2 separate regions of the Homo sapiens genome follow, and region 2 is linked to region 1. Evidence: fine-mapped expression QTL. Tissue or cell type: whole blood. Region 1 holds a variant in brackets; the other region holds the start of a gene. All regions are shown on one strand. Distances are from middle to middle.

Region 1 (8,104 bases):
TTACCAACCCTGCTGGTTGTTATGGGTTGTTTTGAGAAGTTGGCAACCAGGCATCTAAGATGTTGCCTGGTACAGGCCTCTTTTCTTCCCTGAGGCCCATGACATTTCTCTGTTACTCTAGAGGGTTTCTCAGATGGCCAGTAGGCTCCTCCCTGCTTAGGGTCTCATTTCTCTGAAAAGAGGATGAACTGAAAAGCAGGTAGTTCCAGAAGCTAATTGCTGCTTTCCATCATAATTATTTTTCTTGTGAGAACATTTCTCTTTTAATTAGCTAGTGATTTTGATTAAGACTAATTCACTAAACATACCCTTCCCTCAAATCACCTCAGGTAGCAATCTGTAAGTAACTAAAAGCATTGAAAAACACACAAGAAACATTTTTAAAAACTATTTTTAAAGGCCTGGCCGGGTGCAGTGGCTCACTCCTGTAATCCCAGCACTTTGGGAGGCCGAGACGGGTGGATCACCTGAGGTCAGGAATTTGAGACTAGCATGGCCAACATGGTGAAACCCCGTGTCTACTAAAAATACAAAAATTAGCTGGGCGTGGTGGCAGACGCCTGTAATCCCAGCTACTCAGGGAGGCTGAGGCACGAGAATCGCTTGAACCTGGGAGGCGGAGGTTGCAGTGAGCCAAGATTGCGCCACTGCACTCCAACCTGGGTGACAAGAGCAAGACTCCGTCTCACAAAAAACAAACAAAACTGACTGATTGAATATACTAAACCAAACTAAAATCATATTCTTTTGATTAAGTTTATCCATGGCTGTATTCTTCTATGAATTCTTCCATTTAATTCTTCCACGATTATCTTCTCCTGTAAATACATCACAGGAGTTAGAATTCTCTACCCATCAGCTGTACCATGTCGCAGAATTCATGCAGGCACAAAGTTGGAGTTACAGAGATGGGTTGACAGCAGGCAAACTTGGCCTATGTATTATAACCACAACTTCAAGTTCTTACCTCATGTGAATATTCACCCTTTCTTTAGTCTTCCAAGGCAAACAGCCCCGTCTCATCACCAGATGAGCAAGGTCTTGATATGGCATAGCAGATCTCCCTAGACACAGATCATGAGAAAAGATGGAAGAGACTTAGGGATTCAGGCATCAGATGAAGTTGGCTTTTCCCTTTTATGCCTTGTTTGTATTTACCCTGTCTAATACACTAAGGATACTTACTCATTGTACTTGCAGCTCAATATGTCTTTGCTGTTCAGATACTAAAATGTACCTCTGAGTCATTGTGAGCTGTGTGGTAGGTTGGACATTGGCATAGTTGGTGATGGGACTCAAAATGAAAAGGTGGTCTCTTTACCAGGTCACAGACTGTAGCAGATTGTGCTTGTTATCTGACAATGACTGTCACTTTGAGGGTCGTTGATTTGCATGCACTACTCTGGGGCCTTGTATTGGAGCCTTTTTTAAAAAAAATAAAATCTGAGATAGAGGTTGGGGGTGTGTGTGTCTGTGTGCACATGTGTTACAAGTGAGAATCATCAGATGACATCCCTTCTCCTTTCTTGATGACAACCATCTGAGTATCAGAATAGTTCCAGCACCTGTGTTGTTTGTCTGGTTAAGGCCTCTGGAAAAAATGAAGGTCACTGGGTTCTGAACAGGGGATAGATACGGGTTCCAGTTCTGCCCTTATTCCCAGTTATTCCTGCAGTGCTGGTTAAATGAACAGTTTTACAGAAGTATAGTGCAGATCCCTTAATGATCCTATCATCCCAGTTTCACACTGGAAGAAACTGAGGCTCAGAGATTGAGGAACCTTGTGACTGCCATCTGTGCCAGTCACCACCTCTGCATGACCACATTTCCCTCCATTAGCACTACCAGCATGCCTGTGAGGTAGTTACTCAGCTGTTCATCTGACCCCAGACGTAGAAAAGTTAAGAGAGATTAGCCTGGCTTAGGCCACACAGCCAGTCAGTGGTGGAATGAGGGTTTAAATCCAGATCTGCCTGACTTAATTTGCCCTCAGTAATAAGTAGCTGGGTCAGGTAGTGGTGTGGTGGTGGTGGGTGCTCAACCATTGTGTCAAGCTCAAAGAGGGCAGAAAAGGGCAATGGGGAATGAGGTTGGGTGCTGCTGAGCTGGTTTCCGATAGTGACTGCCTGAGTCTGTGAAACTGAGACCTCCTTAGGGCCTTAAGAATATATAGATTCTTAAACCAGGAGAGTATAATATCTAGTGCTCACTGTAGGCTAGACTGAGTGCTAAGTATTACGCATGGCTTACCTCAGTCTTCCCAACAACCCATTTACACATGCAGAAATGAGTGAGTGGTGAAGTTAAGCTTGCTTAGGGTTGCACTGCTGGGTTTCCAGCCTAGGTCTGTCTGACTGCAAAACCCAAGCTGCCCTAGATTGTGTTGTATGTGGACACCCATGTTTCTAATGTGGAATGGGGTGTTTCATCCCTAGCAAGTGCCTCCTGTGGACTTTTAAGATGAAAAACTTCTGCCTAACTCTTCAGGAAGCCTAGCGTAGTTGTAAAAATACTTCAGAAAGCACTTCTGGTTTTAGCTCAGACACGTAGAGTTTGAAAGTTATCCTATCCTTACCACAAGAAAAAGCTGGGCAAACTCAAAAGCATTGGCCTTTCTTGGTCCCATTAGAGAGCTGAGTGTGCAGGTCAAACTGCCATCCCAAAATCTAGAGAGAGGTGAGTCCAGAGAGTGAGCAAGATCTAATTGCCTGGAGCAGAAGCCACGGGAGCCATAGCTAGTAGGAAAACTTAAATGGTAATTTTGATGAACTGCTGGAGGTTGAGTGTGGACTAGCATGGGAGGGAGCAACTCCCCCTCACCCCCAACGCTTTCCTGGGTTTTACCCTACTTGGTTCTATTGGTGAAGAGCTGAGGAAGACCCTCTGGTGACTCTGGCAGGGGAAAGGGAGAATCATCTTTGTAATCAGAGCCTTCTCCATAATAAAGCTTATTCCCCAGAGGAAAGCACTTTTTCACAGAGCCTTATCCATCTGGAGGAGGGCTGGGTCATGTAAGGGGGTACAAAGGGGAACTAAGAAACACTTGTGGGCCAGTGCGGTGGCTCACGCCTGTAATTCCAGCACTTTGGGAGGCCAAGGTGGGCAGATTGCTTGAGCCCGGGAGTTCAAGACCAGTCTGGGCAATATAGCAAAACCTCATCTTTACAAAAAATACAAAAATTAACCAGGCATTGTGGCACATGCCATAGTCCAAGCTACTCGGGGCTGAGGTGGGAGAATTGCTTGAGCCTGGGAAGTAGAGGCTGCAGTGAGCTGTGATTGCGCCACTGTACTGCGCTCTAGCCTGGGTGATAGAGCAAGACACTGCCTCAAAAAAAAAAAAAAAAAAGAAAAAGAAAAAAAAAGGAAAGAACACTTGTGTAGGTCACAGCCCAAGGACACAAGCCCACTAAAATGCTGAGATTTAATCGTAAGATTATAGAATGCTTCACCTCCCCCATGTTTTTCCACCACATCAACAGGACTCCAGGATAGTAACAGTGAATTATACCTGGAAGAGCTGCAAGACACGGACTCTCTCAGGAGGAATATCGAGGGAAGCCCAAAGGCAAGAGGAGATAAACACAAAGACACTAGAGGAACTGGAAGCCTCTGACACCTACAGCTATGGCAAACATTAAACACAGCTCTCAACTCTGAGCCAGATTAACATAAGTTCTCATTCTAGAGGCTTATTTACCCCAGTTCCTATGGCCCAATAGAGTGGATATTCTACCTTCAACAAAAAAATTATAAGCATGCTAAAAGGCAAGGAAAAAAATAAACCCAACAATCAGATGAAACAAAGCAAACATCAGAATCACACTCAGATATTGGAATTATCAGACAAGAAATTTAAAATGTGGTCTGTTAAGGGGTCTAATGGTAAAAGTAAACAACATACAAGAACAGATGGGTAATGTAAACAGACATAAGAAAACTAAGAATCATGCGAGGTGTGGTGGTTCACACTTGTAATCCCAGCAGTTTGGGAGGCTGAGGCAGGCAGATCACTTGAGGTCAGGAGTTTGAGACCAGCCAGGCCAACAAGGTGAAACCCCATCTCTACTAAAAATACAAAAATTAGACTGGGCACAGTGGCTCATGACTGTAATCACAGCACTTTGGGAGGCCAATG[C/T]GGGTGGATCACGAGGTCAGGAGTTCAAGACCAGCCTGGCCAACATGGTGAAACCCTGTCTCTACTAAAAATACAAAAACTAGCTGGGTGTGGTGGTGGGCACCTGTAATCTCAGCCACTTGGGAGGCTGAGGCAGGAGAATCATTTGAACCTGGGAGGCAGAGGTTGCAGTGAGCCAAGATAGTGCCATTGCACTCCAGCCTGGGTGACAGAGCGAGACTTCGTCTCAAAAAAAAAAAAAAAAAAAATTAGCCAGGCATGGTGGTGTGCACCTGTAGTCCCAGCTAAGTGGCAGAGGTGGGAGAATTGCTTGAGCCCAGGAGGTAGAGGTTGCAGTGAGCAGAGATTGCACCAGTGCACTCCAGGCTGGGTGACAGAGACTTTGTCTCAAAACAAACAAACAAACACCCTAAGAATCAAAAGGAAGTGCTAGAAGTTAAAACCTTAAATGAAAAATGCCTTAATGGGCTTATCAGTAGACTGTCCATAACCAAAGATTAAATGAATTTGAAGATAGGTCAACAGAAACTTCCCCACTAAAATGCAAAGAGAACCTCCATCACCCCGCCAGAACATTCGAGAACTATGAGGCAATTCCAGAAGACATAAAATGCATTTAACTTGAATACTAGAAAGAGAAAAGAGTGAAGAATAAATACCTGAACTAATAAATGGCTAAGAACTTTACAAAATTAATGACAGACATGAAATCACAGATCCAGGAGGCTCAGAGGACTCCAAGCAGGACAAATACAAAACATCTACAGATCTGCATTACCTTATTCTAACCCCGTAAACCAAACACCAAGAGAAAATTTGAAAGAAGCTAAAGGAAAAAGCCATCATACCTATAAATGTAATTGCATTTAATTACTTGTTTGAAACCATGCAAGCAAAAAAAGAGTGGAGTGAACTATTTAAATTGTTGAAAGAAAAACACCAGGGCCAGGCGCAGTGGCTCACGCCTGTAATCCCAGCACTTTGGGAAGCTGAGACGGGCGGATCATCTGAGGTCAGGAGTTTGATACCAGCCTGACCAACATGGAGAATCCCCGTCTCTACTGACAATACAAAATTAGCTGGGTGTAGTGGCGCATGCCTGTAAGTCCGGCTACTCGGGAGGCTGAGGCAGGAGAATCACTTGAACCTGGGAGGCGGAGGTTGCGGTGAGCCAAGATAGCACCATTGCACTCCAGAAGGGAGGGAGGGAAAGGAAAAACACTAACCTAGAATTCTAAATCTGGCAAAATCACTCTTCAAAAGAGAAGGAGAAATACCTTTCAGATCAAGAGTACTTCAGAAATGTATCTTTTTTTTTTTTGAGAGGGAGTCTTGCTCTGTCGCCCAGGCTGGAGTGCAGTGGCGCGATCTCGGCTCACTGCAACTTCCCGGGTTCGAGCGATCCTCCCACCTCAGTCTTCTGAGTAGCTGGGACCACAGGTGCTGCCACCACACCAGGCTAATTTTTGTATTTTCAGTAGAGACGGGGTTTCGCCATGTTGGGCAGGCTGGTCTCGAATTCCTGACCTCAAGCGATCCTTCCGCCTCGGCTTCCCCAAAGGCTGGGTTTACAGGCGGGAGCCACCGCGCCTGGCCCTAGAAATACATCTCACCCATAGTTTGTTTACGAAAAAATTGAGGTCCTGAGTTAAGTGGCTGAATTTAGGAAGGAATTGATCCCAAACCATCTTTTTTTCTTTTGCTAAGAAGTTTAAGTCAACGTCAGAAAGTGCAGTTTGAACTCTTCATGATAAAACTGGAGATGTTTGGGGAGAAAAATGGACAATACGTTCAATAGGACGTTATCAGCTGACTTGGTATCCAAACTGAGCTTTCCTGATTATTTCTTATTGCAATGTCTGACTTTTAGCCTATGTAAAAATATTTTCCCGTGGGTGGATGGGGAAATGACTAATTTACAGGACGCGACAACCTAAACCTTCCAAGGGGAAGGCGTCCTAAAGCGAAGCTGCACACACCGGTTCTCGCCGCGCCGGGTCGAAGGCCGCCTACAAGTCCCAGAGTGCTCCGCGGCGTGCGCTGCCCGCCGGGAAGCGTCTCCTGTGCGTCTGCGCGGGAAGTGGAACCTGGCTCTGGGGAGAAGCCGCGTGAGATCCGCGCGGGTGCTAGCTAGTCCTTTCTCGTCGCTGCTCGGCTCGCGGCCCGTGGGGTCGGCCCCGCCACCGTTGCCGCCATGCCCATGAAGGGCCGCTTCCCCATCCGCCGCACCCTGCAATATCTGAGCCAGGGGAACGTGGTGTTCAAGGACTCCGTGAAGGTCATGACAGTGAATTACAACACGCATGGGGAGCTGGGCGAGGGCGCCAGGTCAGTCGCAGCCCCGGCCGCCTGGCGAGCCGTAACCTGCTAGTCGTGCCAGCCTGCTGGTAACGTGAGGTCCCGAGTCGCTCTGGGCGGCCGTTCATCCCCGGGGCGGGCCCCCCAGGTCGGCGCTGTTACCCCCATTTTACAGAGGTCCAGACTGAGGCGGACGGCGGGGCCCCCGCCGGGCCGGCTGCAGTCGTGACGAGGTTTGGGGGGCGGAGGACAAGAACCCCACTCCTGGATCTCCTTCCTCCGGCGCGGTGGGCGAGGCTGACCCGAGGGAGGCCACCAGTTCCCTTGGCCCCTCTGGCCAGCAAGGCAAGCGCTGGGGAGGGGCAGCCGCAGATCCTTTCGGGGTGACGGGGGTGACACCCCAGGACGAATCTGAGGATAAAATGAGAGAAATAACAGCGGCGAACACTGATCATATCTCGCACAGTTCTGAATGCTTCTCGCGCTTTCTTTTTTCTGATGCCTAGAGAAACCCCAGCTTATCCCCACTCTAAGGCTGGGGAAGCGCACAGAGAGGTTAAGTAACTTGCAGCTCCACGAGACACCATGCCAGCCGGTGAGCGGTGAGCCGGGCAGTGTGGCCGCTTCCTTCGGGACTCAAGGTTTGGAAGGAAGTGATTAATTATGTCAGCTGTGCAGCGGCAGACCCTACCCCGACTAGAAGGAACTGTAGGGAACGCCTAGGATGTCTTTCAGCTTGGAGCAGAGTAGGGACTCATTGAATGGCAGTTGGCAAGTGAAAGGTTTGGATTGACCCTGAGGCAGCCCTAAGCAGTGCCTTAGGCTCTGCAGGTATGAAGTCTACATTTATTGAGTACACTCTGAGTGCTAGGCTGTGTGCTGTGTGCTGGGAGTTCAGCAGTGATGGAGGAGGCAGCCTTAGCCCGCAGAAACTTTGGGACTTGGGTGTATGTTGGATCAAAATGAGGCGTGGGGGCGGGGAGCAACTTCTTGTGGGGCATGGTCCCCTTGGTGACGGACCTTCACTGCATGGCCCTTCAAGAGATCCGGAAGCCGCTTCCTAGCCATTTGCTCTGCGCAGGTGAATCTGATAACTTGGACCTGCTTGCCTGGAATCAGCTGGCTTGATGGCTTCCTGGAAGACTTGGTCTTGGTCTTAGGGTGTATGGGCACCCAGATACTCCTTCATAACCTACTGCACAACTGTGCACACCTTTGTCCCCGGGCAACTGCCAGGCAGATAATGGGAAGGGGTGGGGGTCTCGGTGCGGCCCGCAGCGAGCTGGAGAGCACATGCCCTATCCAGAGGGCCCTTCACTGTTTGGCATTGTGGGCTCCGTGGAGAATTTCTCATTTGTCAAGAAGCTGAAATCTAGGTTTTTATGTAAATCTCTGGCTTTTAAATGGCCAGCCAATCAAAATAAGCCTGTGAGCCTCTTACTTACATTCTCAGATATTTTAATGTCCTCTAGGTAAATGGGATACAAACAGCCATTCACTGTTTCTTTGTTCCTGGTGGTAGGGGCTGGCCTGTGCCACCTGTGCCCTCTGTGATCTTGTACCCGTGGGTTGGAGTCTGTCTGCCTTGCTCTGGCTAGCCGCAGTCCTCCCCCAATCCCCAGCCCTTGTTTGTTCATGTGCCCTCAGCCCTTCAGCTGCCCCACTGGG
Region 2 (8,104 bases), 120 kb after region 1:
TTAAAGATGATGATCACACAGGGAAGAAAAAAGGCATCATTTAAGGCCCTCATAATTAGCAATAAAGTAAAAAGAGGTAAACGAAAATCTAGCAGGGGATCCTTACATCAAGGCTGGACTTGGGGTCTAGACCACTTCCAATTCTGAGATTCTAAGATTCCTTCACGGACTCCCCCCGTGTGGTATTTTTTAAGATGATACTTGTACAGGAGATGGTTTGGGACTAAAGGAGCGTATGGCTTATAGGTAAGAGAACTCAACAATAAAAATCCCAACGGAGGGCCCTCGATATGTGGAGACACTCAGGCAGCTAGACACAGACCAGTGGCTCAGTGCCACGGCTGAAGACAGGGCTGCTCCACAAAGACTCACCTCCCTTGTTCTCAAAGTCATTCAGACAACAAGTATCCGCTATCCCTGGCCCCAATCTCAATGCTGGCTCCCACCTCCCTGTTTGACAAATGGGGAATTATAAGCCTCAGAGAGGCTACCAACTCCAGGTTCTGAAGCCAGGCCTTTCTGCCTTCATAGCCCAAGCTCTGTCACTGCACTGCCCTTGCCATGTTACTCCTTGGAGACAGATGCTAAAAACTTCCCAGTTGCTGGGCGCAGTGGCTCACACCTGTAATCCCAGCACTTTGGGAGGCCGAGGCAGGCGGATCACGAGGTCAGGAGTTTGAGACCATCCTGGCTAACATGGTGAAACACCGTCTCTACTAAAAATCCAAAAATTAGCCAGGCGTGGTGGCGGGCACCTGTAGTCCCAGCCACTGGGGAGGCGGAGGCAGAAGAATGGCGTGAACCCAGGAGGCAGAGCTTGCAGTGAGCCGAGATCGCACCACTGCACTCCAGCCTGGGTGACAGAGCGAGACTCCCAAAAACAAAAAAAAACACACAAAAAAAACTTCCAGCCATCCTCATAAAGTGAGGAGGTTGTTACGCACAGGGATTTTCTATAAAAGAATGATCACGAAACAAAACTTAAAAGTCACTGTGAATACAACTACTGAAAGCAATAAATAACTTAACGATGTAAGACAACATATAGCTGTTTTACTAAACTAGCAGTTCTTTGGTTACCCTGAGTAATTAGCTTAAGGAATTGAACAAGTGATACCAAAAATCTTTGAGCAAGACAGAAAAAAAAACCCAAAAATAAACAGTTAAACTATTATTATTTTTAAAATACCATAACAATATCTTATTTTAAAAGTTTTACAATATAAAATAAGTTAATACAAATGTTTTATTTACCACACTTTCGAGTAGAAACTTGATGTATACTTAACAAAATTTGCTTTTAACCTTGGTAAAGCAATTAAAAGGTGATTTTCAATAATTTCATTAAATGAATCAATTTATCTTTAGAAAGATAAATATCCCGAATTAATGGCTACAGAGACTTTCAACTCCCAATTCCCTGTGAACCCACTGGAGGCTTGTTCCTTCTCTCCAATCCCCTGTGATGGTGAGACAAAAATCAGAATATTTGATTTCAAGAAAATCATGGTAGCTTAGTGCTTCGTTTCTTCAGCTAAAGTAAATAACATAAGTTATGTTTGGGCTATTTATTTCTTCACATATGAACTTATTAACTTTCATGCACTTAAACTTGTAATTCAATCATAAAAAAATGAGTGGGAAAAACTATTGAAATGGGTCATTTTATCCATATTTATGTCTCCAGAAAGTGGCATATCTGTCAGAAATCACTTGCTAAATTCAACCAAATACCGTAACAGGCTTATTATTGCTGGCAGTGCTATCTGAATTGCCAAAGAGGCTCACACAAAAGGTATCCATCAATGTACAGCAACTTAGTTATCAGTGACATCATAAATTATCAACAATTCATTCAACAAATAGTGCCAGGCACTCTTCTAAGTGCTGGATAAGTAATGGTAAACAAAATGTATTCCTGCTCTCACAGCTTACAGTGTGGTAAGGACAGACATTAATCAAATAATCACATAATAGAGTGTGTAATTATAAAGTGAGATAAAGATTATAAAGAAAAGAATAAAAAGAATCTGATTTAGACTGGCAATGGGAATTAGGACTTCCCTGAAGAAGTGATGCTTGAGCCAATATCTGAGGTAGGGTGGGGGTGGGGGGTAAGCTTACACTGTAAGCTACACTGGTCAAGGAAGTTGAAGGTAGGCCAGTGTGTCTAGAGCACAGGAAGCTAGGGGTACCACAGATAAGAAAATAATGAAAAGCCTTGGAAAGGTTTTTAAACATGGAACAGGAAGCCTCTGCCATTACGTGGGTTCTAGTGGCGCCTGAACAACATACTGCCTGTAAGAGAGTTCTGTAAATCATAAAGCACCCTATACTTTGGTTAGTACTATTTAGTTCCATTATTTTGTTTTCCAAACTTTTGTCCTGGATGCCATGTAACTAGCTGCAAGCACAGAGCCAAAACTAGAATCTCGGTGTTCGAATCTATTGTTTTTGCCCCTACACCACACTGCATAAAAATTTCATTATTTATATCACTTAATTAGTCCAATGTCTATACCAGTAGTTCATAATGACAACAATAACTCTATTTACACAGTATTTGCTACATGTCAGGCACTTTTCTAAGCTCTATTATTTACATTAACTCATCTAATCTTCAGTTCAGGAAGGAAGGCTCTATTATTGTCCAGATGAGGACAGTGAGGCTAGGAAAGGTAGCTTACACAAAATCACACTGCTAGTAAAAGTTGGGGAGTTGCTAACCACAACACTAAAACATTTTATGTCTGTGTATGTATGTGTATAAATATCTCTATCTCGAGAGAGAGAAAGAGAGAACTCACACACAGAGAATTATATTCAACTCCAGCCTGGGCGACAGAGTGAGACCTTGGTCTCAAAAAATAAATAAATAAATAAATAAATCATATTCACATGTTTGAGGACCAGTGTCTTACTTTTTTGTATTCCCAGCCTAGCACATAGTGCCTGGAGTATTCGTAGCACTCAGGAAATACTTGATGAACTGAAAATGTATATAAGAGGCTGACGAAGGATTTGAATCTGGAAGTAAAGTGAGTTTCTGAGGCCCTCCTCCCAAGTCATGTATTCATCAGTAATTCATATGAAGGCTGTATTTTCCTCGACTTTCTTATTACATTGAAGATTTGTTCCTCACTACCGTTGCTATATTTCACAGCCTTTGGCTTGGAAACAAAGTGGGATAATGGACAATTACTAGTTCCAACCAACTCTCCAGCCACAAGCAGCCAGTTCTCGATCACATCAAATGCTCTTCCTCCAGGGCCGTTACACGGGATGTCCTGTCTGGAATGCCATTCCTCCCTTGGGTTCCTCTGTTCAAACATCACTTACTCAGAGAGGCCACCCTGACCATTCCATCTAAATTAACGCCTCAGGTCTTCTTCAGCAGGTCATTTGGCTTCTTTTCTTTCACAGAACTTATGACTCTCTGGAATTATTTGTCTATTCACCCCCCAGCCCCCAACTCTAGTGAGGGCAGGGGTCTTGTACAGCTGGTTCTCCAGATGTGTCCCCAGTGCCTAAAAAACTAAGTCAACATGTATTCAGCGAACGAATGAGAAGAGAATCACTCCCGAATTGTGCTCTCTCAAACCCCAAATACCCTTAACGCTTGCCTCTCCTGGTGGCTGTAATCCCATTTTTAACAATAACACCATTTTCAAGTGACTCTGAAGCTCGCAAAGTAGCGTTGCCTCCATTTTCTGAGTAGAGCCCCACAAACAATGCTCAGAAGGGAGGTCCGGCCTGGCAAGAATGCGCATGCCCCCCATTTACAGTCGATAAAATTGAGCCTCATTAGGGGATTCGCCAAGGCCGCTGCGAAATAACGAGCAGGAGCCCTGAAAAGTGTCCTGGTTCCGAAAACCTCTTCCCACGAGAGCGCATCGTGGACTCGAAATGCTTCATCACCTTTATTACTATTGTTCCTCAGTACTCATTCGAGACGCGTTCCAGGCGGAGGGAAGCAGCCCACCTGCTGACCCAAGACCAGGCGCCGGCCTCTCCACCCGGCCGCGCCCCTCGCGCCCCGCCCCCGGCCCCGCCCCCGCCGACCCGGCCCCACTCTTCGCCCCGGCCTCTACTCCCGCCCCGCCAGGGCTCCCGCGCCCCATAAGGACCACCCTCTTCCGCCTCAGCCAATCAGCAAAGCTTAGGGGGGCGGTGCCACAGGCCCCGGCCCTCCTATCTGGGCGCCAATTAGCCAGCCCATCCGTCGCTCACGAGGTCGCGCCTCGCACCCGCCTTCCTCCTTTTCTTTTACCCTCCCCTTCAGAAAAAACGGCGGTTGGGCTGCGACGGCCGCCAAAGGCGGACTAGAAGCGGAGGGGTGAAAATCCCGGCAGAGAAGGAAGAAGGGACTGCAGGCGGGAGGAGGAGGAGGATAAGGAGGAAGGGAGCCCGCCCAGCCGGAGCCATCTCCGTCGAGAACAAAATGGCGGCGCTGGCGGAGGGCCAACTATAAGGCGGGGCCGCGGCCATTCCCCCTCCACCCCCACCCTTGCGCCGGCCGGGCCGGTCAGGGGGAACCCGCTCGCTTCGCCCGGCCGCGGGCGGGGAGGGGAGGGGAGCGGCCCGGCCCACTATGCAAAGCGCCGGGCGCCGCCGCCGCCACCCCGTGGCAAAGGTAAAAGGGTCGGGTTCAGCCGCCGCCGCGGCGCCTCCATGTCCGCGCGCCAGGCCCGCCCCCTCCGCCGCCGGCCCGAGCCCGCCCGACCCTCTTTCAATTTTACCTCAGGATTTGGCGCCAAAGCGGCCTCGAAGCGGGTCCCGTGTCTGCGGCGGGCGGCCCCCGGCGCGGAGGGCAGGGCGCGGGGAGCCCGGGCTCCCGGTGTCGGCGGATGGCGGGAGCCCGGGGGCCGCGGGCTCGCGGGGCAGCGGGCGAGAGACGAGACGCCGAGGTGGGAGCGGGGTGGCGGGGACGGGCCCGGGGGCGCCGCCGGGGTCGCGGAGAAGGGGGGGTTTGTTATTGTTTTTGTCAGTGAAAGGTCAGAGTTCGTGACCCCGGTGCCGCCGCCGCCGCCGCCCGCGCGCTGGTAGGAGGAGGGCGAATGTTCTTCTTCCTCTTCCCAGCGCCAGCCTCGCCGCCGCGGCGGGGGGCGGGCGAGAACGCGATTGGCTGAGGCGCGCGCGCGCACCGGAACGCCGCAGCCGGCGCTCGGTCCATCCGGCCCGTGGGCTGTGGGGCCCCGGGCGGCGGCGGCTACGTAGCTGCCGCCGGCCTTGGCCGCGGCCGGGCGGGCGGATATGTGGCTTAAATGGCGCAGGCGTCGGGGCCTAGAGGCTGAAGGGCTGGTCGTCCTAAAAACTCGTGGACGTCGCGCACGGTTACCCGGACGCAGGCCCGCCCCTCTGGGGAACCGCGAGCTCCTCGCAGCTGGGTGGGGACCGTCCTCGCAGTGGCGGCCTCCACCCTGCCTTCTCGCTTAGCCAAGGCTTCTGGAAGGCTCGCAAAGTGTCTGTTGTTGGAAGAAGCCGGGCCCTGACTGGCGCGACGGATTCTCCCAGCCGCTCAGCAGAGCGTCTGTAGGTCGGAAGTGGGGGTTGTATTGGGTGGGTATTGAGCTCTTCGGCCCTTCCTCGGTACTGATAGTTTTTAATTTAGGTTTTAAAGGTCTAAAGATGCGCCCGTTCTGGCCATCTCAGGTGAAATGTTGAAACGCCCCAGAACCTATAATTTTTGGTTTCTTAGTAAACATACGATCCAGATCTTGTGTAATTCCATGCCCCTCCTCCTCGAAATTTGGAAGTAGTACATGGTAATAGGGATGTGTAAAGCAGCTTTTAGCAGCATTGCTTAAATTTATTTGAAGAAATTGGCCTGTCTTGCTCTTAAACTCTTGGGCTGTAGGTTTTCCTTACATATTTCTCTGTTTTATGTCGTGGTTTTGACTTGCCTGGGAAGGTGCAGGCGCTTATTTATCCTAAATGCCCTGAAGTGTTTAGGCTACAGGCTGTAGATCTTATACTGATTTTTTTTCTTCAGTTTTCTTGCTTATTAAGAATAAATATTGACTCCAGAATGGATGGGTTAACTTTTTTTCCCACACAGTATCCATTTGGGTTTTTATCAGGATGACTCCAACATTTAGTATTTTTTTTTCCATAATCTTATAATATTTCTATTTGGTAAAAAATGTTTTAAACACAGCTATTTCCCCTTCCTCCTTTTTCTGACGTTGCAAAATTGGGAAAAGAGCTAGGTTCGTTTTGTCATGGTAAAGCACAGCTCTTGAAATTGGAAGAGGCCTTAAGGGAATGTGGTCAAATTTTTTTCTTGCAGAAAGATTTTCCGATTTTAGGGGTGAAGTGGGTGAGAACTAGAAAGGTCAAGTGATGTACCTGAGAGGCAAAAGCAATTGCGTTTTTGCATTTTTGAAATTTGCTGTTTGATATTGGAATACATTCTTAAATAAATGTGGATCATTTTAATGCACATTTCTCACTTTATTTTTTTGCTAATGACTTATTGCTGTTTATTTTAGAATATGCTTTTTGTCTAATGATGTTAGATAAAAAGCAAATTTGGAGCAGTTTTCTTATTCGAGTTCAAAATGGTTCATAAAGCAGCGAAGACAACTCAAAACATCAGTAACACATTTGGCCCAGGAACTGCTAACAAACATACAGTGCAGTGGTGGCTTAAGAAGTTTTGCAAGGAAGAGAGCCTTGAAGATGAGGAACGTGATATGGGCCATGGGAAGTTGACAACGACCAATTGAGAGCAATCATTGAACTACATGAAAAATTACAGAAGAACTCAGCGTTGACTATTCTACGGTCATTAGGGTCGTTCAGCATTCGAAGCAAATTGGAAAGGTGAAAAAGCTTGATAAGTGGGTGCCTCATGAGCTGAGCGGAAATCAAAACTATCGTTTTGAAGTGTAGTCTTCTTTTATGCTACGCAACAACAAACCATTTCTCAATCGGATTGTGACATGTAATGAAAAGTGAATTTTATACAACAACCAGCTCAGTGGTTGGACCAAGAGGCAGCTCCAAAGCAGTTCCCAAAGCCAAACTTGCACCAAAAAAAAGGTCATGGTCACTGTTCGGTGGTCTGCTGCCCATCTGATCCACTACAGTTTTCTGAATCCTGGTGAAACCATTACATCTGAGAAGTATGCTCAGCAAATTGGTAAGATGCACCGAAAACTGCAATACCTGCTGCCTGCATTGGTCAACAGAAAGGGCCCAATTCTTCTCCACGACAACACCTGACTGCGTGTCGCACAACCAGTGCTTCAAAAGTTGAAGGAATTGGGCTACAAAGTTTTGCCTCATCCACCATATTCACCTGACCTTTCGCCAACTGACTACCACTTCTGCTAGCATCTTGACAACTTTTTGCAGGGAAAACACTTCAGCATGGTGCAGAAAATGCTTTCCAAGAGTTCGTCAAATCCTGAAGCACGGATTTTTATGCTACAGGAATAAACAAACATTTCTCATTGGCAAAAATGTGTTGATTGTAATGGTTCCTGTTTTGATTAATAGAATATGTTTTAGCGTAGTTACAATGATTTAAAATTCGCAGTCTGGAAATTTAATTTTTGCATCAACCTAATATTTCTATGGTAAATCCTTGCAAACATGGAAACAATGCATTTGGCCCAGTGCTTTGTGGTTGTGTACTCTTTTTCTTTGTTTTTTTAATAGATGGCATTGGCCGGGCATGGTGGCTCATGCCTGTAATCCCAGCATTTTGGGAAGGTGAGGTGGGTGGATCACCTGAGGTCAGGAGTTCAAGACCAGCCTGACTAACATGGTAAAACCCCATCTCTACTAAAAATACAAAAAAATTAGCTAGGCGGGGTGGCGGGCATCTAATTCCAGCTACTTCATGAGGCTGCGACAGGAGAATCATTTGAACTCGGGAGGCAGAGGTTGCAGTGAGCCGAGATCACACCATTGCACTCCAGCCTGGGCGATGAGCGAAACTGTCTCAAAAAAAAAAAAAGTTGGGGTCTCGCTGTGTTGACCAGGCTGGTCTCGAACTCCTGGCCTCAAGTGATCCTCCCATCTTGGCCTCCCAAAGTGTTAGGATTACAGGCGTGAGCCACCACACCCTGCCTGGTTGTGTACTCTTTTAAATACT

What was found. PIP is the estimated chance that this variant, and not a neighbour inherited with it, causes the effect.
Region 2: FGD5-AS1 starts here. The variant in region 1 is fine-mapped to the expression of FGD5-AS1 in whole blood (INTERVAL, PIP above 0.99).

The regions. Positions count from the first base shown.
Region 1 is chr3:15,063,423-15,071,526 of GRCh38, reverse strand. MRPS25 (mitochondrial ribosomal protein S25) reads left to right here and starts at 6,212. Exons shown (of 4, transcript NM_022497.5): 1 at 6,212-6,466. The coding sequence starts at 6,333. RBSN (rabenosyn, RAB effector) reads left to right here. Exons shown (of 14, transcript NM_022340.4): 14 at 1-1,454. RefSeq lists an enhancer at 6,053-6,232. The variant C/T (reference allele first, on the strand shown) is at 4,139.
Region 2 is chr3:14,944,542-14,952,645 of GRCh38, reverse strand. FGD5-AS1 (FGD5 antisense RNA 1) reads left to right here and starts at 4,205. Exons shown (of 2, transcript NR_046251.1): 1 at 4,205-4,633; 2 at 6,492-8,104. It overlaps NR2C2 (nuclear receptor subfamily 2 group C member 2), which reads right to left and starts at 5,063. Exons shown (of 14, transcript NM_001291694.2): 1 at 4,740-5,063. RefSeq lists enhancers at 3,159-3,846, 4,201-4,400, 3,847-4,534, 5,223-5,912 and silencers at 4,001-4,060, 4,451-4,870, 4,891-4,960, 5,011-5,440.